Regions from separate parts of the Homo sapiens genome. Here regions 1, 3 and 4 are each linked to region 2. Evidence: fine-mapped expression QTL. A gene starts in region 2. Each other region holds a variant in brackets. All regions are shown on one strand. Distances are between the middles of the regions.

Region 1 (6,459 bases), 21 kb after region 2:
GAGTTCAAGCTGTGATCATACTATGGTGGTGCTGTTGCATTCCAGTCTGGGTGACAAAGTGAGATTCTGTCTCAAAAAAAAAAAAAAAAAAGGCACTTACCAAGGAACAATATAGTTACCACTGAATTTGAAAGTGGGTGCCTTTTCTTTATATTGGCTGTTAGTCCACCCCTGAGTTACTGGAGTTAATTCTTGTTTAGCTAGCTAGCTCTATGTCTTTGTCATACTGTTTTTTAAAGACTTCATTTTATTTATCTTGTTTGCTTCCAATAACAGACTGTAGTGTTTTTGACTACAAAAGGTCATCAGCTAATATGTTGAAGTAAGAATTCTGTTTCTCTACAACTGCCTTCTCATAGATAGGACGGGAAATTACAAAAACATTCCAGAGGAAATAGTAAATAGTTCTGCCTAAGCTTTCATATAGGATTTTGCAATGGGGGAATGTTGTACTTAGTATGCATTTCAAAATTAATGTGCTTGATCTATTAAATGTGATAACTCAGGAACCGGGAAGAGCAGAATTTGGTGGCTTATCCTCATGATGGAAAAATCTTTTTCTGCACCTCACAAGATATCCCTCCTGAAAATGAACTGCTTTTTTATTATAGCCGAGATTATGCTCAACAGATTGGTAAGTTAATATGTGTTTATAATGAATCTGGCTTAGTAAAAATACCAAAGACCAGGATTAAAGTTTTGGTAATGATTTACATGTTAGCTGAAGCAAATCATATACCTTTGTTTGTATAAATGCAAACTATTACTTGTATTTGAGGTGTTAAAATCTGTGAGATTCTTCACAAGCTGAATGTTATTGACCAAGCAATAATTCATATGATACGGTCTTTTATGGTAGGACTTTGGTTTGGGGCATTGAAGTTCCTTAGGCTACTTTTCGAGCTAGCACCATTGAGATATAAATTCATGAAGGACAGCGAAGTCCCTCGGTTTGATTTAACCTGCATATGCTTTCTCTTTGCTGTGCTGTTTCATGATGACAGCTAATGTTTAAGAGTTTGGGTATGCTATAAAACCTAAATATTTTGCTTACAAAAGAGGCCTTATAATCCAGTATTTACCAAGTGCTTTCTTTGTGCCTGGTACACTATTTTATTTTACTTATGTATGTGTGTATTTAGAGATAAGGTCTCACTCTGGCAGGCTGGAGTGTAGTGGTGCAGTCATAGCCAACTATAACCTTCAACTCCTGGGCTCAAGCAGTTTCCTGCCTCAGTCTCCTGATTAGCTAGGACTATGGGTGTACATCACCATGCCCAGCCAATGATTTTTAAGTTTTTTTTTTTTATGGAGATGGGGTCTTGCTGTGTTGCCCAGGCTGATCTTAAACTCCTGGCCTCAAATGATCATGCCACTTTGGGCTCTCAAAGCACTAAGATTGCAGGCCTGAGCCACTGTGCCTGGCCCATAGTACATTATTTTAGATGCCCTTAGTACATTATTTTAGTTTTATAGGAAGTGGGCAAATTGGAAATATGGAGAGAAAGGAGAACTGGAAGCAATGATTGTTAATATCAAGAACAAGTTTTAAGATTCAAGTATTGGGAGATAATGAGTAATTTTTTTTTAAAAGGTGTTCCTGAACACCCAGATGTGCATCTCTGTAACTGTGGCAAGGAGTGCAATTCTTACACAGAGTTCAAAGCCCATCTGACCAGCCACATCCATAACCATCTTCCTACCCAGGGACATAGCGGCAGCCATGGGCCAAGTCACAGCAAAGAAAGGAAGTGGAAGTGCTCAATGTGCCCCCAAGCTTTTATCTCTCCTTCCAAACTTCATGTCCACTTTATGGGTCACATGGGTATGAAGCCCCACAAGTGTGATTTCTGTAGCAAGGCTTTTAGTGATCCCAGCAACCTGCGGACCCACCTCAAGATACATACAGGTAAGTTGTGTTGGCCCATCAGAATGGAATTTTTGCAACAATTAGAAAATGCGGTAGTAAAGGCTTTGTAGAGGGATTGTAGGTGGAGTTGAGATTTGATGTCAGAGAAAGAAACCTTCGTGGTTTAACTGAGATTCCTTGGAGGCTGTCACTTCCAATTATTAGGATGTTCTGCTTTCCAGGTCTCCCCACCATAGTTGGAAGGTGCCTGGGAAAATGCACTTAATAATCAGGAAGTTGATCAATGTGTTTGGTCTTAAATAGAAGCTTCTGAGTCTGAGTCTGAGCCTCTCATTAGAGCTCACCCCCCAGTCACCAGCCAGAGCCAGTTTCTCTCCTTTAATATTATTGCTCAATAAATATTGCCACAGTTTATTTTTTGAGCTTCCATTTTCTAAATCCCATGCAAACCAACACCTTTCTTTTAGTACTTTTTAAGAAAAAAAAAAATTTTTTTTTGAGATAGGGCCTCACTCTGTTGCCCAGGCTGGAGTACAGTGACACCATCTTGGTTCACTACTACTTCTGCCTCCAGGACTCAGGTGATCCTCCCACCTCAGCCTCCTGAGTAGCATGGACTGCAGACATGCGCCACCACACCTGACTAATTTTTGTATTTTTAATATAGATGGGGTTTTGCCATGTTGCCAAGGCTGGTCTTGAACTCCTGGGCTCAAACAGTCTGCTTACCTCAGCCTCCCAAAATGCTAGGATTATAGGCCTGAGCCACCATGCCTGGCCACTAACTTTTTTTAATAAATACTACAAAATAACTGATGGCTTTAGCTTTCTTGTTGGGGTCATCTTTTCTCCAGATCTTCAAAAGTTTCTTCCCCATCCTTTTGCAACAGAGACCTTATGGCCCACAAAGCCTAAAATTCTATCTATCCTTTAAGAGAAGGTTTGCTGACCCCTTAGAGGAATCTTATTTTTGCATTCTTGGAAGGATTTTGTTTCATCCCTGGTTTTGAGGCAATATTATATGTTTTAAAAAGATAGAAAACTATAAAATCTATCTTGTAAAAGTATGTTTC[C/T]CTATAGACACGTCCTAGAATTCATGAGTTTTTTTTTTTTTTCTTTATGTTTGTGTTAGGGCATTAGGATTATAAGTCATTTTTTTCAAGTTTTATGTATCACCTATACATTTTTTAAAAATACATATTTAGGTCAGAGGTCCTAAAGGAGATCAAATTAATTTACTAGCTTTAGTTGCAGAATATAAACTCAGGAGCTCTTGAGTGGTCTCACATAGACAACCCTAGAAAGTAAAATGCTGCTTACCAGTCAGCTCTGTTTCATTCCTGCCTCTGCTGCATGCACATATGTGTGCCTGTGTGTCTTGGGGATGCCAGCAGTTGTTTTCTTCACGGTGTAATACTTTGGGCTGATTGCAGGTCAGAAGAACTACAGGTGTACCTTGTGTGACAAGTCTTTCACCCAGAAGGCTCACCTGGAGTCCCACATGGTTATCCACACTGGGGAGAAGAATCTTAAGTGTGATTACTGTGACAAGTTGTTTATGCGGAGGCAGGACCTCAAGCAGCACGTGCTCATCCACACTCAGTAAGTTACCCTGCAGCCAAGACGTCGTTCCTCAGGTGGTGAGCCTTTGTGTGGCTGCAGCCCACCTGCTGATTGAAGGGCTGGGGAGTCCTGGCTCATCTGTTTCATGCCTTGGTACCATGGTAGATGCCTTCTGTGTTCCATGTAGCCAAGCCAAGGTTGGAACACTTTTTTTGGTGTTATCCTGGAAGATTTCAGTTGTTGGCTTTCTTTTTCTTACTTTTCACATGTACTCTTTTTTCACATCTACAAAAACCTAGAGACAAAAAGGACTATTGACTGCAAGTGGTTGCTTATAGTTAGACGATAGTGTGCATGTGAGAGAGTGATGGAGTGAGAAGAGTAAGAGTCAGCAGCCACACTATGGAGAACCTTTGGTCCTATTAAGAAAATTCAATTTCAGTCCAGAAATAATGGCGAGACACTGAAGGATCTGCCAGCCCCTGCCATTTTGGAACTGTTCTGTTGGTGTGTGTGTGTGTGTGTGTGTGTGTGTGTGTGTGTTTGTCTGAATTGCAGTTAAAAAAAAAAAATTGTTATCTTAACTGTTTGTAAGTGCCCAGTTCAATAGTGTTAGTTATATTCACGTTGTTGTGCAAGCACTATAGGATTTTAAGGAAAGGAGTGTCATAGTGACATACCCATTCTGTTAATACAAAGATTACTTAGGCAGCTGAACAGAGGATGATTGAGGGTGGGGAAGCCTAAATATTGGAAGACCAATTAGGTATTTATTGCATGAATCCAAGTGTAATTAAATGTCTAGACTGCATTAGTCACAGTGGTCATAGAAAGAAGAGATGGATTTTGTTGTCCTTAGCTTTTAACAAGTGTCAGAAGAGGAAGAAAATGTTTTCAGCTTATGTTATGGAAATTCTCTTTAGAAATCTTACCTTCACTGAAAACGTTATATTCTTAATGTAGAATTTGGATAAACACTTGGCTTTGATACCAGTTCTTCTGTCTGCTTCCTTATCACAATGCAGCCTGAGATGCTAAACAGCCAAGGAGCCTGGATCTACATTCCTAACTCTCAGAAGGATATTCTAAAACAAAGACTTCTTTAGTTCCATTGCTAGCATGAAATTTTACAAAATTAGACAGAAATTATCAAATATTACATCAAATTGTGCAATATTGGAGCCAAAAGAGATCCCCGGATCATCTAGTCTTAACATCCTGTCTAGGCAGCTCAGGTTGTGATAATAAAATACCACAGATTTTGTGGCTCAAACAACGGGAGAGACACAGTGAGAGAAGGCAGTCATGAGCAAGCCTGGAAGAGGGCCCCCACCAGAACCCAGCCAGGCTGGCACCCTGATCTCTGACTCCAGCCTCCAGGACTGTGAGAAAATACGTTTCTGTTGAGAGAATGAAAGAGAAAGAATATGAGAGTTCCAATCTCTTCTCATAAGGACACTAATCCTACATCATGGAAGCCCCATCCTCATGACCTCATCTAACCCTAATTGCCTTCCAAAGGCTCCACCTCACACTGGGTGTTAGGGCCTCAACATGTGAATTTGGGGTGAGGGGGGACAAATATTTGTCCAGAAGACTGCCCATTATAATTGCCTGGAAAATGTGAAAAACAACAATTGGTGCTAGGACCCCATCCATGGGAATTCTAATTTAATTGGTCAGAGTTAGAGCTCTGGCCTTGGTATTTTAAAAAGCTCCCCAAGTGATTCTCGTGGCCAGCCAGGGTTAAGGACTACTGACTTCATCCACATGCAAGATTGATTTCCACAATGTCTCTGGCAAGTGGATATATTGTTTCTTAAAGATCACACAATTATAGTTTGAGGAAAAGTTTTGCTTGAATCAAGTCGATATCAGCCTCTATCCTTTCATTTTACTTTTGCTTAACAAATGTGGATCTGGACTCCTTTTCAGGGTGAGAAGATATGGTAAGCCTCTTTGCCAAACTTTCATGGGATAGAAAGAAGGTTTTGGACTGTCAAAACTTAAAGCTGGTATAAGTCATTCTTATAAGAAGCACTGTTCCCTCAAAATGGTTTTGAATGAGGCTTTAGGCTTCCTATGGAGATCGTTGGTAAAATTTTCAGATGCTTGTATTTTTACTTTGGGGCATTTCAAAGTGGATATAGTAGTATTAGCAGTCTTTTTATTTATCTACTTAAAAAAAACAGCTACAGCCCTAATGCCAAATGCAAGAGGAGTTCCCCCCCTAGTGTCCCCCGAGAGTGGAAGGGTGGTGACAGAACCTGGCTTTGCCCTTCCTGTAAGAAAGAGGAAGTGAGCAGAAGAACAGTGATGTTTACTCCCCAGGTCATCTTGTCTCATGGCTTTAGATACCGTCATATGATTTATGTCTCCACCCTCATACACCTCACCATCACTCAGCGGCTCTGATGCTGGATGTTCGCTAGGCAACTTAAATCTTATGTGTCCAAAACTCAACCCAGTATTACCCCATGAATTTGATTTCCTCCAGTGCTGAGCAGCTCATTAAATGGCACCACCATTATTCACCTCAATGGTCAAGCCAAACACCTTGAAGTAATTCTCAACTCAGTTTTTCCTTCCTTCCTTCATTCAACTAACACCTTGTCCAGACCACCAGCTTTTCTTCTATGGATGGCTTCAGTAGCCTCCCAGTTGATCTCCCTGCCACTACTTGCTGTTTCTCCTCATCTACTCCGCAACACAGATGAACACACATACACACAGTTTTCTGTCCGCAGTGCCAGAGCAATCCATTTCAAATATAAGTCAGATTGTGCCTGTCTCCACTCATACATCTCTGGTGGCTTTCCATCGTATTTGTGTTAAAAGCTTTTTACAGCAGTCAGAAGGCCCTTTATGATGTAATAGTACTTGGCTACCTCTCCCTTCACCTTTTCTTACTTTTCATATTCTGCTTTGGCCACTCTGACCCTCCCCTTGCTACTCCTTGAGCATACTAAGCACATCCAGTCTCAGGGCCTCTGCCTTAGAAACTTCTCCCTCCAGATGCCTGCATG
Region 2 (6,459 bases):
TGTTAATCTTGACATAATTTTTTAATTGAATTTTTGAGGTATTTTTACATACAATAAAATTCACCAATGTCAAGTTTACTATTTGATTAATTTGGACAGATGTATACAATTGTGTAACCTCTACCACAATCAAGACCATTTTCATCACTCCTAAAAGTTCTCTTATGCCCCCACTGTAGGCAATCTCATCCCCCAACCCATTCCCAACTTCTGACAATCACTTCTCTGCTTTCTATTACTACAGTTTTGCCTTTTCTAGAATTTCTCATACCTGGACTCATAATATGTAGTCTATTGTGTCTGGTTCCTTTCACTTAGCATAATACGTCTTTGAGATCCATCCATGTATCAACAGCTTGTTCCTTTTTATTTCTGAGTATTCCACTGTATAGATACTGTACACTATCATTATTCATTTACCAGTTGATGGACATTTGGGTCATTTCCTGTTCTGGCCTATGACAGATAACGCAGCTATGGACATTGGCGTACAAGTCTTTGTACATATGTTTTTATTTTTCTTTGGTAAATACCTAAGGAGTGTGGAGAATTGGATGGTATAAGAGGTATAAGAAATTGCTGGCCAGGCATGGTTGCTCATGCCTGTAATCCCAGCACTTTGGGAGGCTAAGGCAGGTGGATCACTTGAGGTCAGGAGTTCGCAACCGGCTTGGCCAACATGGTGAAACCCCATCTCTACTAAAAATACAAAAGTTCGCCAGGCATGCTGGTGAGCACCTGTAATCCCAGCTACTGGGGAAGCTGAGGCAGGAGAATCACTTGAACCCAGCAGGCAGAGGCTGCAGTGAGCTGAGACCACAGCACAGCACTCCAGCCTGGGTGACAGTGAAACTCTGTCTAAAAAAAAAAAGAGAGAAAGAAAAAAGAAAGAAATTCTAAAATGGCTGTGGCATTTTTTTTGCATTCCCACCAACAAAATGTGAGGGTGCCAGTTGCTCCATATCTGTGCCAACACTTGTTATAGTTGGTCTTTTTAATTGAAGCCATTCTAGTAAGTGTGTAATATCACTTCATTGTGCTTTGATTTGCATTTCTTTGATACCTAATGATGCTGCACATCTTTTTGTGTGCTTAATCGCCATCCATATAGCTTCTTTGGTGAAATGGCTGTTGAAATTTTTGCCTAAGTTTTTAAATTTAATTGTCTTCTTATTATTGTGTTTAAAGGGTTCTTTATATAGTCAAGATACAAATCCTTTGTCAGATATTTGTTTTGAAAATATTTTCTCCCAGTCTCTCACTTGACTCATTTTGTTGACAGTATCTTTTCAAGATCAACCATTTTAATTTTGATGAAGTTCGATTTGTCATTTTTTTTTTTGAGATAGGGTCTCTCTCTGTCACCTGAGCTGGAGTGCAGTGGCACAATCTTAGCTCATTGCAACCTCATACTCCTGGGCACAAGCTATCCTCCTGTCTCAGCCTCCCAAGTAGCTGGGGCTACACGTGCATACCACCATGCCCAGCTAATTTTTTTTATTTTTTGTAGAGACAGGGTCTCACTTTGTTGCCCAGGATGGTCTCAAACTCCTGGGCTCAAGCGATCCTCCTACCTCAGCTTCCCAAAGTGCTGAGGAGAGAGCCACTGCACTTGCTCCAATTTTTTAATAGTTTGTGATTTTTTTGTCCTATCAAGGTCACAAAGATTTTTGCCTTTATTTTCCTCTGTAAGTATTATGGTTTTAGCTCTTACATTTATGTGACCTGATTTTTATGTTCACCTCTCAACTTAATAAAATTGTTCCAAAAGAACAGACATCCAAACCCAAACCTAGTGAAAGCATTCGGCCGGTAATAAGATACATCATCATTCTCTAGGCTCCAGATTTGAAGTGGCATTTCAGGGAATACTGTCTCTCAGTTGAGATGATGACCTTCTTGATTTAGATTTCTATTTGTTGTCAACAGAGAGCAAAACCAATGTGACCTGCCTGCCAATGTTCAGTGAAGTTTCCTCATCTGGAATGTGCTTTCCCCCCATGAGAAGTAAACGAAGGGAAACATTATGGGGGTTGACACCCCTCCCAGCTCTCGTCCAAAAGGTTGCATGTGCCTCTACCCTTTCACATTAGACTGAATTTTCAAAATTCATCAGTTCCCACTAGACTGCAGGCAGGTGAAGGTCAGGGCTTGTGCCTTGCTCTGTATCCCTAGGTTTGAGATGTAATTCAACAGACGCTTTGTGAATGACAGGAAGAATTCCTGGGTCTGCTGTTCTGCTGGTGTAAGGGAGCCACCAGGCAGTGTGGTGTAATTTCAACGTCTACTGCTCAGGAGCTTGGGACCACCTTCCTTTAAAGCCATCTCGGTACTCCTAGCGTTAGGCACAGTGCCTGGCGCGCAGTAGAGAACTGAGGGCAGAGAAAAGGGGAAGGAAATTTTGTTTAAAATCCCAAACCCCAGCATTTACGACGGGAAGCAGGGAAACTGGGCAGCCTTCAGGTGTAGCAGACGGCCGAAAATATTCAGGATAGAATCCCAATTCCTCCTGGGCAGCAGAGGCAACCCTCGGGGCCAAATCCCATACTTCGAATTTTGGGGGCTTTGTGTGGACCCATGCTTCTCTAGTAGGGGAATGTCATGAAGACGAAATCCTGAGTCTGCGGGATTTAGGGGATTCAAAACTCAATCCCTGCAGGAACAGCAGCCCTGGTCGCCTAGCAACCATGGGCCGATCGCTCGGCGCTCGATTCTACCCGGCCGGATGGAGACGCGGAACTCCCGGCCGAGCCTCTCGCGGCCAGTGCCTCTGCCGTGCGCACGCGCGGAGGGGCCTGGGCTGGGAGAAGGGCGACGCGGTGCGCGGGCGCCGCTTGCGGGCCGCGGCGGGGAGGGCGCACGCACGAGGGGCGGAGCGGCGGGCGCTGAGAGTGGCTGAGGATCCGGAAACGCGCCGCAGAGGGTGCGGCCCAGAGGAGGCCGCGGGCCGGGAAGGGCCGGGCGGGACGGGAAACGTTAGGGCAGCGGCCCCCGGGGTGAGGGGGCCGAGCGGACGGGCAGGGCCCCGAGGCGAACTCTGCCCGGATGAGGAACAAAGCAGTGGGGCAGGCGCGTGCGCCCCCAGCGCAGCTGGCAGGTGGGCTGCGCGCGGGCCCGGCCGGAGCGGGGCGGGGCGCGGCGGCCCGGCCTGCGGGCCGCGGGCGGGCTAATCCACAGCCCTTGGGTGGCGGTGTCGGCAGCGCCTGGGGCTTTCGGGTAGCTGGGATGGGGGCTGCGACCTTGTTGTGGTTTTGGTGACCGCTCTTGTCCCCACTCCCCCAGGTTGGGCAGCCCCCTTCCCGAAGCTTCTGGACGGAAGGCCCCAGGTGTTCCCCGAGATGCCCCAACCCGTGGCGGGGTGCACGGCCACCGGCCCTCGGGAGAAGTTGGGCGGCCCCGGGCGACCCCGGGGACGAGTGGCCGCGTCGGTGCAGCGGTTGTGAGCAAGATGTGGTAGCACGTGACCCTGGAACGCAAACCCTGATGCCTGTTCCCCACCACCCGAGCGCTCCTTTCTCTGATATTTGGCCCCAAGCCGATGCATCACAGGTGAGTAGGGAGGTGGGCTTCAGCACTGGTGACATCGTTGGAAACTCTGGCGAGTGAGTGTCCAGGGTCAGTGCCGTTGTTTTTGGTGCCATTGAGAAGGTTACAGGTGTGATTTGCAAAGGAAACAAATCCAGAAACTAGTGTTGGGTGGAATGTAATCTCATGCATCCTAATTTACTCCACATGTGGAAAGTTGTTCCCAGTAGCCACACGTTTATTGTTGGCTTGTTGACACCTTTTCCTGTGTCTTTCAGTTATTTGAGCGTTTAATATATTTTTCCGGATTCCAACGTGTATTGTTATCTTATTATGCTTCACCTTGAGTTTTGCTGGTATGGCAGGGACGATAGTGAGGGAATTAAGTTCTTAATTCTGCAAGCTTCATGCTGATGTTTAAGTACAGAAGCAGGCCACAGAAATTGTTGCATTTGGCTGTTTTTTCAAGGCCCTTTCAAAGGCCGTATGTTTAGAATAAGGAAGATAAGGCACAAATTCATTGAAATTATTGAAGCCCCACTGCATTTTTCAAAGTGGCTGCATTTCAGTTAGTTTATTATATTTTATGCGAAGAAAAAGGTGTAAAATCAGCAACTGGCAGATGGTTGCATAGGTCAGTTAGAAACACACACATAAACTGTAGAACTGTGTAGGAAATTATTTTACCCTAAATGAGTAGGGAAGATAGAGCTTAGTATCTTGATTCTTGCCTTCTTCCGGGATTGCTTCTTAGAATCTCATAGGAGAAAGAAAATGAGAATAGAACTGCATTTTAGAATGAGAAAGTCTTATGAGGATCATATTGTACATTCCCTTCATCTGCCTTCTCTCTGTGGGATACTCATTACCTTTGGTTTATGGCTGCTGAGGTCATCACGTTTTAGTGACTCACAACAAAGCAGAAATCTGCTGAGCCTCTCGCATTAAACTCTGGTTTGAACTGGTTTGAGAAGGCCTAGGAGTCAACCTAGAAACACCATGCTGATTTTTATCTTGAAATTAAATAAATATTCAGGAATTTTCAGAATGAGAGTTGAAGGTGCAGACTTGTAGTTGTACTTTTAAAAAAATATTGTAACCAATTTGTTAAGTAGGCTGTTACAGCTGTAGTGATTGTAGTGTTTTAATTATGGTTGTAGCTATAAAGAGTTAGGGAAAAGTCTGTTTTAAACCAACTCAAGCCCAGCAACTTTCAAAATTAAGGTAGATATGTTTTCTTTAGGCTACAGGGATTTTTTGCTTTTTTTGTTTTTAAGACACAGTCTCACTCTGTCACCCCAGCTGGCGTGTAGAGGTACAGGCAGAGCTCACTGTAGCCCCGACCTCCCCACTTCAGCCTCCCCTGTAGTTGGAACCACAAGCACGAACCACCATGCCTGGCTAAGTTAAAAAAAATGTTTAGTAGAGACAGGGGTCTCACTGTGTTGCCTAGGGACGTCTCCAAGTCCTGGGCTCAAGCGATCCTTCTGCCTTGGCCTCCCAAAGTGTGGGATTACAGGTGTAAATCACCACACCTGGGCTGCTTTATTTTATAGCATAATAAAAACTGTTATTAGCATGCTGTTCTTCATAAGGTGTACCTCATTTGCCAGGTGCTTCTAGCTGTCTTTCTGGTAAGGGTGATGAGTTTGCATAGCTCCATCCGATAAAATAAGAAAATTCAGAATGTCTGTTCTATACAAGGTACTAGGTTGGCCTTTTACATTTTATTGATGTCTTAGAGCTTAGTTTTATGGGATCCATGGCCAGGGATAAGGGTGAAACCTAATAATGCAAGAAACAGGTCTATGTGGAACTTTAAATATACGCCACAATATAAGTAGATAGGCCCTAATGTATTGCAACTGTGTAAAAGGCAATATAGTTCTTTTATTGTAATTGTCTTTTTCTTACTATAGTTAAGAGCTTTGGTTTCTTAAATTAGTTCTGAATTTAAATCCCAGCTCTCCTTACTGGTTATGTGATTCTGGGTTAAGTTTCCTAGCATCATTGAATCTTAAGTTTCCTCATCTTTAAAGTGGGATTAAGAATAATACCTACCTCCAGCCTGGGCAACATAGGGAGACCCCATCTCTGCAAAATAAAAACAAATTAGCCAGGCATGGTGGCACTTGCCTGTGGTCCCAGCTGCTTGGGGGCTGAGGTGGGAAGATCTCATGAGCCTAGGAGGTAGAGGCAGCAGTCAGCTGTGATCACGCCACTGCACTCCAGCTTGCAGCTACTGAGCAAGACCCTGTCTCAAAAACAAAAAAAAAAAAAAAAAAAAAAAGAAGATTAAGAGAGATAGTTACATATAAATCACTTAGCCCAATACATAGCACATGGTAAGGGAGCCATAAATTTTAGCTATTATTATTTTCAGGTTGATTGATAAAATGGCATTGCCATTTTTCAGAATTAAAAACCTATTTAGATTTGATTTCACTGCTAAGGAATATGTAACCTCATTTGATTCCTCTTCTCTGCTTCACCCCCTCCCATACGCAGAGAATAAAGCCCAGTGTAAGGACTGGAGGTCATTAGAGAGCCCCTTTTGGGTAACCTGTTGGCTAGCCTAGTGGTTCTGTAATGTTTATAGTATGGCAGTCTCTAAATTATGATATAAGAACTAATACTTTTTGATAACAACCTTCAGTGCTGTTTTATTCAAATCAGTATTACTCTTATTCGAAAGACATTTGTAATGGCAGTGCAAGATGGTTTGCATAGAAAAGGTGATTCCTAGGTTCTTCACCTTGCCAAAAATAGTCTGTAGTTAAAAAAAAAGTTTGGTGCAGTTAAAAAAAAGTTTGGTGCAATGAAAAACTTTTTGGCAGTGTTTTGCAGTTTGATCTGTGATCTTTCACTTAATAGCTATGTGATTTGGGGCATATGACATGGCCTCTCTGAGCCATAGTTCCCTCATCTATCTTA
Region 3 (6,459 bases), 75 kb after region 2:
GCCTCTTTTTCTAATTATCTCCAAGAACAGCATCTCAAAATGCAGGCAGTAGTCCCCCCTTATCCACGGGGGATACATTCCAAGACCCTCAGTGGTGGTCTAAAACCACAGATAGTACCAAACCTTATATACATTATGTTTTTCCTATATGTACCTAGGAATCAAATAATGATAATATACTGTAATAAAAGTTATGTGAAAGTCATCTCTCCCAAAGTACTGTACTTTACTCACTTATTTTCAGACTGCAGTTGACTGTGGCTAACTGAAACCGAAGAAAGCAAAACCGTGGATAAGGGGGGACTACTGTATTGTGAGAAGACTGACTGCAGTTGAGGAAAAGGTATATGGATATAAGTTCAAGCACACCATAGCATTATAACTGCATACAAAAACTCACAAGTGGGTTACAGATTATTAAACCTGATATATGCAATAAAATACACAGTACTTTTTTTTTTAGATCCTAGATTTGTATCTTAGTGGGTTAGAGTTTATCTTCTAAACTAGTTTAGGAATCATGCTGTCTGCCCAAGTCTTCAACCAGATTATCTTACTGATGTCAAGAACAATAAAATCTAAGAGTAAAGCTTTGGAACACCACAAACATGATCCAACATATTGAGCTTGTAATTACAAACCATCAGAAGTGGATAAACTAACCTGGGTCACCTTCCTCATCATATTTATCTAAGTCGTACTCAGCCAGCTCATCATCATCAAGCGTCCTGTCATCCTCTGGGTCACCATCCTCCAGGGGCTCTCTTGGGCGTGCCTGGGTGCGTGCACTCTGCATGCCATCTTCTGAAGGACTGCCTGTCTCCTCTTCATCACTGCCACCACCTTCTTCTCTATGAGCACAGAAAGAAAAAGAGAATCACCCAAATGCTACCTTCTAATAACAAGACCACATGGTCATCATCATTTAAGATATAGATTTCATCTGGTCCTAAACTTACTGCAATTTCTCCTTTGCCTCAGCAATGAGGCGTTTTACTTCTTCTTTACTCAGCTCTACCTGTAAGAGAGCAAAGATTTCATTACAATATGTGTAAGGAAATCATCAAATTATTTGAATTAAAAAGTAGTTTGCAAACAAATGTAAAATGTAACGCCAAGCAATGTCATCAAGATAAGAATCAAACATCAATCCAGACTCTATATTAAAAAATATAGATTTTATAGATTCTTACAAATAAGATCTCTCGCTACCTGAAACTTCAAAAATCATGCTCATTCTACTCCACCTCTTAGTCTTAAAACTCCAAAGACTGGTTTTGGTAAAGTGGCTGTGTGGTACTCGTCTGGTTTTCTTCCAACCATCTCTGACTCTGTCTAGGGCACCTCTCCCTCTCTTCCCTGTGGGCATTCCTTAACAAATCACCCTTACATGAGTCCTCTGTTCTTTTTTTTTTTTTTTTTTTTTTTTTTTTTTGAGACGGAGTCTCGCTCTGTTGCCCAGGCTGAAGAGCAATGGCGCCATCTCGGCTCACTGCAACCTCCACCTCCCGGGTTCAAGCGATTCTCCTGCCTTAGCCTCTTGAGCAGCTGGGATTACAGGCACGCGCCACCACGCCCAGCTAATTTTTGTATTTTGGTAGAGACTGGGTTTCACCATGTTGGCCGGGCTGGTCTGGAACTCCTGACCTCAAATGATCCACCTGCCTCGGGCTCCCAAAGTGCTGGGATTACAGGCGTGAGCCACCGTGCCCGGCCTTAATTTTAATTTTTAAGAGATGTGGCATGGTCACAGCTCCCTGCAGCTGTGAACTCCTGGGCTCATGCGATCCTCCCACCTCAGCTTCCTGAATGACTAGGATTACAGGCACGAGCCACCGCAACTGGCTTGTCCAATTTCTCTCATTTGGTCCAAGTTTTCCTTTCTAGGATTTCATAAATTCAATCTCTTTTTCCTATAAACTCTTCAAATAGTGGTTCCCAGACTTATCTGTACATCAGAATCACCTAGGGAATCTTAAATAATTTAGGCTACACTACAGGCTAATTACAACACAATACTTGGGAGTGGGACATAAACATCAGTATTTTTTGAACCTCCCCAAGTGTGAGATTTTCAATGTGTAGATTCATTTGGAAATCAGTCTTCAAGTATTTGAAAGGCTATATGTCTCTTTTTAATAACTGTTTCCTCCAACAATTTTTATATGAAATAATTTTCTGTCCCTATTCTATAAATGTAACACCGAGTGCCTACCATCAACCAAACCCTGGAGAAACAGTAAATAAAACAGTCTGTGCCCAGGTGGAATTTACAACTACTGGGACTACTCCAATCCGTCATTCCTGTTAACTCCATGTCCAAGCCAATCACATTCCTATCACCATCATCATTATCTTGGTCAAGTACATTCAAATCAACCCCTTTTACTGTTTGGTAGAACTTAACTCCCACTGACATACTATATGTGCACATGTCGACTCCATAAAGGCAGGGTCTTTTTCTATTTTTTTTTTTTTTTTTTTTTTTTTTTTTTTGAGACGGAGTCTCACTCTGTTGCCCGCCCAGGCTGGAGTGCAGCTGTGCGATCTCGGCTCACTGCAAGCTCCGCCTCCCGGGTTCACGCCATTCTCCTGCCTCAGCCTCCCGAGTAGCTGGGACTACAGGCATCCACCACCACACCCGGCTAATTTTTTGTATTTTTAGTAGAGACGGGGTTTCACCGTGTTAGCCAGGATGCTCTCGATCTCCTGACCTCGTGATCCGCCCGCCTTGGCCTCCCAAAGTGCTGGGATTACAGGCGTGAGCCACCGCGCCCGGCGGGACTTTTTCTATTTTGTTCATGCCTATCCCAGGACCCTGAACAATGCCTGGCCTACAGAAAGCACTTAGTATCCAATGAGGAAATTACTTAAGTAATCGTCACCTCTGCTACAGTCTCAGTCTCCAACTCTTGTAGGTTTTTCATGTGTTAGACATTTACCTCTCATCCTCCCTGCTACCATCAACATCTCACTTGGATTACTGCAAGAAATTCCCTATTCATCTCCCAGCCTCACGACATCTTAGCCTCCACACCAGTTTTTCTACACCACATTCATCCTCACTCCTTCAGACACGGAGCACAAGAGTGGAAAGTGGAGTTTTCATGCTCTCTTCCCAGTTATGCTTGAAAATGCACTTGGGTGCTAGTGAAGCTAGTGGTGTTGTCAAAAAGCCTTTTGGGGTATTACCCACCAAAAACAGCAGCCCACCCCTTTCCGGCCCGCTAAGTCCATGTGCGTGCGAATTTGGGAGTGGGGTTGGGCTTGAGGGTGGGAACAGTGAGAAGGCGCGGCCCTTGACTCTCCAGGCTCAGGCGAACCAGACCTTCTGAACTGCAGCTCTAGTCGCGACAATCCGGGCAAAGCCGCCCTCACCCCAGCCAGTCGCACCAGCCAACGCCCCGAGTTCCGGGTCCACGTTCCCCCAGCTGGGCGGACCCCCAGTGCCGTAAAGACGCTGCTCCCCTTGTCTCCCAGCGACCAGGCCTCACCTTGTCTGGTGTCTCTTTGGCCACGCCGCAGCGGACCCAGGCCACGCACGTCACCTGGCGGCTGCGGTTCATGGTCCTCAAGTCAAGGGCGTGTCACGCTAGAAACCAGGCTGCATAGGGAGGGACCACGACCGCACTGCTGCCACACGCTCAGGGATCTGCACAGGGCCGCTGCCAGGGCAGAGCGCATGCGCAGGCTCCTGTTTGGGCAGCGTCGGCGCTCATTTCAGACGTCATTCTGAGGCGCCGAATGAGAAATAGGAGGGGACAAAATGGAAGCGGAAGCAGCCGGGCGAGGAATC[C/T]ACGTGGGCTGGTCTGGGCTGTGTGAAGTATAGAGAAAAGGCTTTTCAGGACTGCATGTGACGATGCCTGCGGGCTTTGTAAAGGCCAAGAAAATATTTGGGACTGTAGGGGTCAGTCAGAAGCAAAGTTTCACCAATCTTTATTTTGCTTGCAGTTCCGTAGACTTCAAGCTGACAAATGGCAGAGGTTTGTGGTTTGCGTTTTTTAAAAAGCTTTCTCCAAAATGAATTTGTCGTTTCACGGAGATCCCACCATTACATCTCATTACATCCCTAAATGTTACTTTCTCACCTTAAAACATTTAGCACCAAAAAAAAAAGTGAGAAAAAAACATTTAGCACCAATTATATACTAACTATGCAGTAGTGATTTAGTCTTGGCAAACACAAAGGGCTTACTTATGTTGAAGGCGCTGTTTTGAGTGCCGTATCACGTGATTACTTACCCCTTTGTGGGAGGTCTTATTTCCGTTTTACACCTGGGAAAACAGCGATCCTTCCAAAGGTCACACTGCTAGTAAGCGGTGCAGCTGGGATATGAACCCGGGCAGTGTGACTCCCTTGTATCTATGTCATGCTTCTCAGCTAAGATCAGTCATCTGTTAGAACTCGTGAGTGGCTGGACGTTTGTAGAATGGAAAATCTCAAACTAGCATCCCAGAAAAATCTGGGTTTTGATCTCTTGGCTGTGTGGCCCTGTCCTGGTCATTTACCCTCAATGCATCTACCTCTGAGAGAGGCAAGCAAAAGAAACAGGAAGGTGGCTGCTATGGGGAAACAGTGGCAAGGATAAACTGGCAGTACACATGGTCTTTCCCAGTGGCATTGTCAAACGGGGGGTGTCCACCTGTGGGCTCTATTCGGGGACCTTTTTGCAACACATTTATCTTTCTATACAGTATTTTACTTGGTTCTCACAACACTTTGTTTTAAAGATGAAGCTAGAGTCCCCAGTAGTCAAATACTTTCCTACTCAGATCACACACAGAGGAGCTGATACAACTATGAGTTCTGTCACCAACTCTACTCAGCCTAATGCGCTTGGCAATCTCCCTGCCTGAGGAGAGATCCTCCCAGAAGTAAATTGCTCATTGTTTGTGTAGGCAGATTATTTGTCCATTAAGACTTCTCCCCCTGCTCTGTTTCTGTAAGATGATTCTTCTGTGGTTTCTTTGCTTTTAACCCATTTTAGAAAGACCATATGGCAGATAATATTTTTCAAGGATGGCTGCAACAATAGAGTCCTTCACACATGTTTGTCTGCAACGTGATCTTGATATTCCTCCATCAAAGCACCCCCCCCCGCCCCCACCAACTTGAATCTGGGTAGTTGTAGGTCTGCTTTGGCCAATAAAGTATGACAGAAATGATGTTTCCAAGGTTAAGTCATAAATAGGATGCAGGTTTTGCTTCCCCACCACCACACCCACTTCTCCACTTCCACACCCCCCACCCACTCCCCCACTGCCCACCAGTAGAACACTAATGTTTGGAGCCCTGAGCCACCATATAAAGTTTGGCTACTGTGGTAGTCTGTTCTCACACTGCTAATAAAGACATACCCAAGACATGATAATTTATAAAGAAAAAGAGGTTTAATGGACTCACAGTTTCAGTTGGCTGGGGAAGCCTCACAATCACTGCAGAAGGCAAAAGAGAAGAAAGGCATGTCTTACATGGCAGCAGGCAAGAAGAGAGCATGTGCAGGGGAACTCCCCTTTATAAAACTATCAGATCTCAGCTGGGTGCAGTGGCTCATGCCTGTAATCCCAGCACTTTGGGAGGCCGAGGCAGTTGGATTACAAGGTCAGGAGTTCTAGACAAGCCTGGCCAACGTAGTGAAACCCCGTCTCTACTAAAAATATAAAACTTAGCCGGGCATGGTGGTGCATACCTGTAGTCTCAGCTACTTGGGAGGCTGAGGCAGGAGAATCACCTGAACCCAGGAGGCGGAGGTTGCAGTAAGCCGAAATCGCACTGCTGCACTCCAGCCCGGGCAACAGATCAAGACTCTGTCTCAAAAAATAAAAATAAATAAAAATAAATTAATTAATTAATAAAACCATCAGATCTCATGAGACTTATTATCATGAGAAAAGCACAGGAAAACGCCGCCCGTATGATTCAATTACCTCTCACTGGGTCCCTCCTATAACACATGGGGATTATGACAATTCAAGGTGAGATTTGGGTAAGGACACAGATCCCAAACCATATCAGCTACCCTGAGTCCACTATGCTGTTAGGAAACCAAACCACATGGAGAGACCACATGTGGTACTCCAGTAGACAGTTGTAGTTTTTGAGTTAACCCAGACCTGTAAATGAAAGTGCCTTTAGGTGAATCCAGCTCCCAGACATTGATTCACTCCCAGCGTTTGAGCTTGCTCAGCTGAGACCCAGCCATCATGGAACAGAGACAAGACATCCCCACTGTGCCCTGCCCAAATTTCTGACCCCCAGAATTTGTGAGCTTAGTAAAAGATTGTTTCTAACCACTAACTTTAAAAGAAAAAATCCTTCCATAATTTTTATTATAGTAAAATATACATAACACAAAATTTGCCATTTTTAAAAAGAGACAGATTTAGGGTGGGCTCCGTGGCTCGGCCTAAATCCACTTTGCCCTCCTTTGAGAGGCCAGCACTTTGGGAGGCCAAGGC
Region 4 (5,000 bases), 130 kb after region 2:
CCTTAAGTTTGAGAACCACAGGTTCCATGCACTGAAATTCTGTCATGGGTTCGACCTGGGCTGTGGGCTATAAATTTGTTTCCTCTGGCCTAAAGCCCTGCCACCCAAAACGTGCTCCATAGACCACAAGCAGTAGCATCCTCTGGGATCCTGTAAGAAATGCACACTCTCATTCAGGCCCACTGAATCAGAATCTGCATTTTTAACACACTCTGCAGGTGACTCCCATGCACATTCATGCTTGAGAAGCACTGTGTGGTAAGAATAATTATGGCCTCCTAGAAGATTGCATGCCCTAATAACCCCTGGGACTGGGACCATGAACACGTTACTTTACATGGCAAAAGCGACTTTGCAGGAGTAATTAAGGTTAGTGCTTTAGTCCATTAGGGCTGCTAACAAAATACTCTAAACTGGGTGGCTTATAAAGTGCAGAAATTTATTTCTCACTGTTCTGGAGGCTACGAAGTCTAAGATCAGCGTGCCCGCAGACTCGGTGTTTGGTGAGGGCCCACTTTCTCATAGATGGTGCCTTCTAGCTATGTCCTCACGTGGTAGAAGGGGTGCTGAGGCTCCTCTGGGGTGTCTTTTGTAGACCTACTCACCTCCCAAAGACACCACCTCCCAATATCACCACCTTGGGGGTTAGGACTTCAACATTTAAATTCTGGGGGGACAAACATTCAAGAGCATAGCAGTTCCTCATGAGTTGACCTTCAAATAGAGAGATTATCCTGGATTATCTGGGCGAGCCCAAAGTAATCACATGAGCCCTTAAAAGTAGAAGCAGAAAAGGACTTCAGACGGGAGGGGGGAGAACAAGATGACAAAGAGATCCCAGTCTGAGAAGGACTTGATGCTCTGTTGCTGGCTTGAAGATGGAGGGGCCACATGGCAAGCTCGTGAGGGGACTCAGGTAACCACACTAGGAGTTAAGTGTGACACCAACAGTCAGCAAGGAAGTAGGACCTCAGTCCTACAGCCACAAGGAACTGAACTCTACCCAAAAATCTCTGAAAGAGCTTGGAAGCAATTCTTCCCCAAAGCCCCCAGAAAGGAACACAATCCTGCTGACTCCTTGATTTTGCCCTTGAGATTCTAGGCAGAGAACCCAGCTGGGTCACACTGCACCCAGATTTCCAACCCAGAGAAGCCATGAGATAATAAACAGGTGTTGCCTTACGCCTCTGAATTATGGTCATTTGTTACTGCAGCAATAGAAAACTAACACATCTCATCTAAAGTTTACATCTATTGGACCACATTTCATCATCTCTGTGATCCAGAGTGCCAGACACATAGTGGACACGTGGTAAGTACTGGCTGGTCATAAAAAAGATAAGACCTGTTATCTGCAAAAATGCTTTGTACAGACTGTATTATGAAGGTTAGGGATGAGGTCTCACTCATCTACACCAGGGTGTGTCTCGTGCATCTTGCTGGTGAATCAGCTTCCTTCTAATCAACTCCGAGTGAAGCAATAAGAACCCATTTCCTGGACTCTTGTGCCCTTGAGAGAGGCATGTACAGTCTGTAGACTCTTTTGCGAGTTTTTCTTTTTTGGCGGACAGCGGTGGTGGTTTAACTCGATTCAGGAGGTATTGATTAAACATGGAAGAGGTGTCCTGCAGTGTGAAAGGCACTCTTTTGGGGCCACAGAAGCAGGCAAGGCAAGACCCCTCCTCTGCTGGAACTCACAGTTGACCTCTCTTTCTAACTTCAGTGTGTACTCTATCATCTGAGAATGTAAATATAAGGGCTGGCCATGCTTGTTCCAAATGGACAATCTTCAAATACGTAACAATGGTCAGGGGGAGGTGCAACTCCCCACTTTTTAGGTGAGGGCAGTGCATGCTCACTGCATTCCAAAGAGGACGGTATGGAAAAAGGGGAAGAGAGGAAGTTTACAGTAGAGAAACTCGACAAACACTGCCTCAGCCAGGTGGCTCAGGTCAACATCAATAGTGATAACTCACCTTGATGGAATGTGCCCTTGATAAGGTGTCTTTCTCTCCAGGGTTTCCCTCTGAAAAATCCATAACCCCAGTCTAATCATGAGAAAAACATCAGGCATATTCCACTAGAGGGGCAGCCTACACATGCTTGACCAGTGCTCCTCAAAACTTTCAAGGTCACCCCAAACAAGGAAAGTCTGAGAAACTGCCTCTATCGAGAGGAGCCTAAGAGATATGACAATGAAGTGTAATGTGGTACTCTGGATGGGATCCAGGAGCAGAATAAGACACCAGGTACGAACTAAGGAACTCTGGCTATTTCTCAAAGAACTAAAAATAGAGCTACCATTGGACCCAGAAATCCCATTACTGGGCATATTCCCAAAGGAAAAGAAATCACTCTACCCAAAAGACCCTACCTGCACTCACATGTTCATTGCAGCACTATTCACAACAGCAAAGACATGGAATCAACCAAGGTGTCCATCAGTGGTGCACTGGATAAAGAAAACATGGTAAATATACACCACGGACTACTATGCAGCCATAAAAATGAATGAAATCATGTCCTTTGCAGTAACAGGGATGCAGCTGGAGGCTATTATCCTAAGTGAATGAATGTAGAAACAGAAAACCAAATACCCCATGTTCTCACGTGTAAGTGGGAGCTGATCACTGGGTACACATGGAAATAAAGTTGGGAACAACAGACAATGGGGATCCAAA[A/G]GAGGTAGGAGAGAGAGAAGGAAGGAGGCAAGGGCTGAAAAGCTACCCATTGGGCCCTATGTTCACTATCTGGGTGATGGATTCAATTGAAGCCCAAACCTCAGCATCATGTATATCCATGTAACAAACCCACACATAAACCCTGTGAATCTAAAACAAAAACAAAAACAAAACCCTAAGGAACTCTGAATAAGGTCTGGATTTTAGCTCATAATAATGTATCAATATTGGTTCATTAATTATAACAAATGTACCATAGTAATATAGCCTATTAATCATAGGGAAAAGTGAGTGAGGGGGTATATGGGAACTCTCTGTACTATCTTCTCAATTTTTCTGTAGATCTAAAACTGGCCTAAAAAAATAAAATCTATTTTAAAAACCCGGTGTGGTGGTGCATGCCTATAGTCCCAGCTGCTTGGGAGGCCAAGGATTGCTTGAGCCCAGGAGCTCGGGGCCCGCCTAGGCAACATCATGAGACCCTGTCTTTAAATTTTTTTTTTTTTAATTGGGCATGGTGGTGTATGACTATGGTCCCAGCTACTCGGGAGGTTGAGGTGGGAGGATGGCTTGAGCCCAGGAGTTTGAGGCCAGCCTAGGCAACATGGCAAAACCCCACCTCTAAAAATAAATTTTAAAAACTTCCTACCATGGAAATATGATTATAATGGAAGCAGTAGAAGTTCAGAAGAGAGAAAGAGGGAGGGTGGAGGCTTTAACTGAACATCAGGGGGCTCCCTACACTTCATCCATTCATTCGCCAGAGGTTTAGGGAATGTTTCCCCACTCACTAAGCTACATATTCACTCATTCATTCATTCATTCATTCTCCAAATATTTATTGAGCGTCTACTAAATGCCAAGCACTGGCTGGTTCCCGGGAGCTGGACATTGTGCAGAGGATTAGGGTGCTACGCCGTGGTGGCACCAAAGATGCTGCCTTTTACGAGGCTTTCTAGCCGCTTCTTTTTCAAGGAACAGAGTCCTAAGAGAAAACTCCCCGCTGCATCCTTGAATCTGTCCATGTTTGTGGAGGTGTCTGCCCTGTGCCCTTCCCAGTGCTCCTCCTCCAGGCAGTGGAGCACCAGTGTCATCTGTCCTGGTTACCTGGGACCCAATACGATTCTGAACTCCAGGAGGGCCCTTTTGAGTGTGAGGGGTGGTGTCATTCGTATCAGGTGACTGCTGTCAGGGGGTGAGATCCATAGGTCAGACTGTGATGATAAGCTGGGTTATCCTATGGGCTTGGTAAGTCCTGGATCAAAACCCAAAGACAATGGAATGGAAGCAACCAAACTTGAGGCTTGCTCCATTCTGGAGGCGGGAATGAGTGGTGGTTGTGCTGGGTCAGATGCCTGGATTCTCTGAGCAGCACATTTAAGCACAGTGCTTTAGGCCAAAGGGATAACAGGCTGCAGTCTCAGGGCAGCAGGCCATTTGGTCTTCACATGCAGGGTCTGACCTGGGAGGCCAGGATGAGTCCAGGAGGGTGGGTGGGTGGGGGTGGGGCCAGGCCTGAGGACACAGTACCCGGTTAGTGCATGTTACTGGCATGCTGCTGGGTACTTGCCATTCAAGTCCCTCACAGAAAATTCTAGATGTGCACATGGAGTAAATTCAGGTCCTCTGGACTCAGAACTGTGTGGTCATACAAAAGAACTAAAGGGGAGTGAAGCAAAATTCTTTTTTTTTGAGACAGGGTCTCTCCCTGTTGCCCAGGCTGAAGTGCAATGGTGCAACCCCAGCTCACTGCAACCCTGACCTCCTGGGCTCAAGTGATCTTCCCACCTCAGCCTCCCAGGTAGGTGAGACTACAGGTGTGCACCACTGTGCCCAGCTAATTGTGTGTGTGTTAGTGTGTGTGTAGATGAGGTCTCACTATGTTGTCCAGGCTGGTCTTGAACTCCTGGGCTCAAGAGATCCTCCTGCCTCGGCCTCTCAAAGTGCGGGGATTACAGGCATGAGCCACCACGCCTGGCCCTGCAAAATTCTTAATAGCATAGTTACCAGGAAACTCTCTTGAGATGGAGTCCTGTGAATTTGGGGGGTGACATCTTTCCTCTTCTCCTTTGACTCCACTCTTCTCCTAAAAAGATGTGGAAATACTTCCTTTTCTTCTGAAAGGAGCACTAGGATTACTCCCAAAGGTCCTTTATAGGTGGCTCAGGCTGGAGTTCTATGTGGTGGTAAAAACATAAACAATGGGACCAGATGGAGGGGGTCCTAGTTCTGGCCCTTCACTCACTAGCTCTGTAACCTTGGCAAAGTTACTCAGCTTCTCTGGGCCTTGGTGTTCTTTTCCAAAGAGGATTAAAAATA

What was found. PIP is the estimated chance that this variant, and not a neighbour inherited with it, causes the effect.
Region 1: its variant is the best candidate, but not a certain one, in a credible set for the expression of PRDM4 in whole blood (INTERVAL, PIP 0.64).
Region 3: its variant is the best candidate, but not a certain one, in a credible set for the expression of PRDM4 in whole blood (TOPMed, PIP 0.77).
Region 4: its variant is the best candidate, but not a certain one, in a credible set for the expression of PRDM4 in whole blood (TOPMed, PIP 0.85).

The regions. Positions count from the first base shown.
Region 1 is chr12:107,736,396-107,742,854 of GRCh38, reverse strand. PRDM4 (PR/SET domain 4) reads left to right here. Exons shown (of 12, transcript NM_012406.4): 9 at 507-634; 10 at 1,595-1,909; 11 at 3,304-3,472. It overlaps PRDM4-AS1 (PRDM4 antisense RNA 1), which reads right to left and starts at 6,300. Exons shown (of 5, transcript NR_120474.1): 1 at 5,908-6,300; 2 at 4,366-4,833; 3 at 3,191-3,728. The variant C/T (reference allele first, on the strand shown) is at 2,944.
Region 2 is chr12:107,757,595-107,764,053 of GRCh38, reverse strand. PRDM4 (PR/SET domain 4) reads left to right here and starts at 2,917. Exons shown (of 12, transcript NM_012406.4): 1 at 2,917-3,097; 2 at 3,283-3,549. The coding sequence starts at 3,539. It overlaps PRDM4-AS1 (PRDM4 antisense RNA 1), which reads right to left. Exons shown (of 5, transcript NR_120474.1): 4 at 5,662-5,779; 5 at 4,086-4,282. RefSeq lists silencers at 2,627-3,206, 3,257-3,366.
Region 3 is chr12:107,683,007-107,689,465 of GRCh38, reverse strand. PWP1 (PWP1 homolog, endonuclein) reads right to left here and starts at 3,667. Exons shown (of 15, transcript NM_007062.3): 1 at 3,495-3,667; 2 at 960-1,018; 3 at 664-851. The coding sequence starts at 3,566. RefSeq lists enhancers at 3,329-3,378, 3,599-3,858 and a silencer at 6,288-6,459. The variant C/T (reference allele first, on the strand shown) is at 3,797.
Region 4 is chr12:107,628,796-107,633,795 of GRCh38, reverse strand. The region is part of intron 11 of ABTB3 (ankyrin repeat and BTB domain containing 3); the gene reads right to left. Among named protein-coding and RNA genes, the nearest start is that of PWP1, 55 kb to the left of the region's middle. RefSeq lists an enhancer at 1,170-2,369. The variant A/G (reference allele first, on the strand shown) is at 2,682.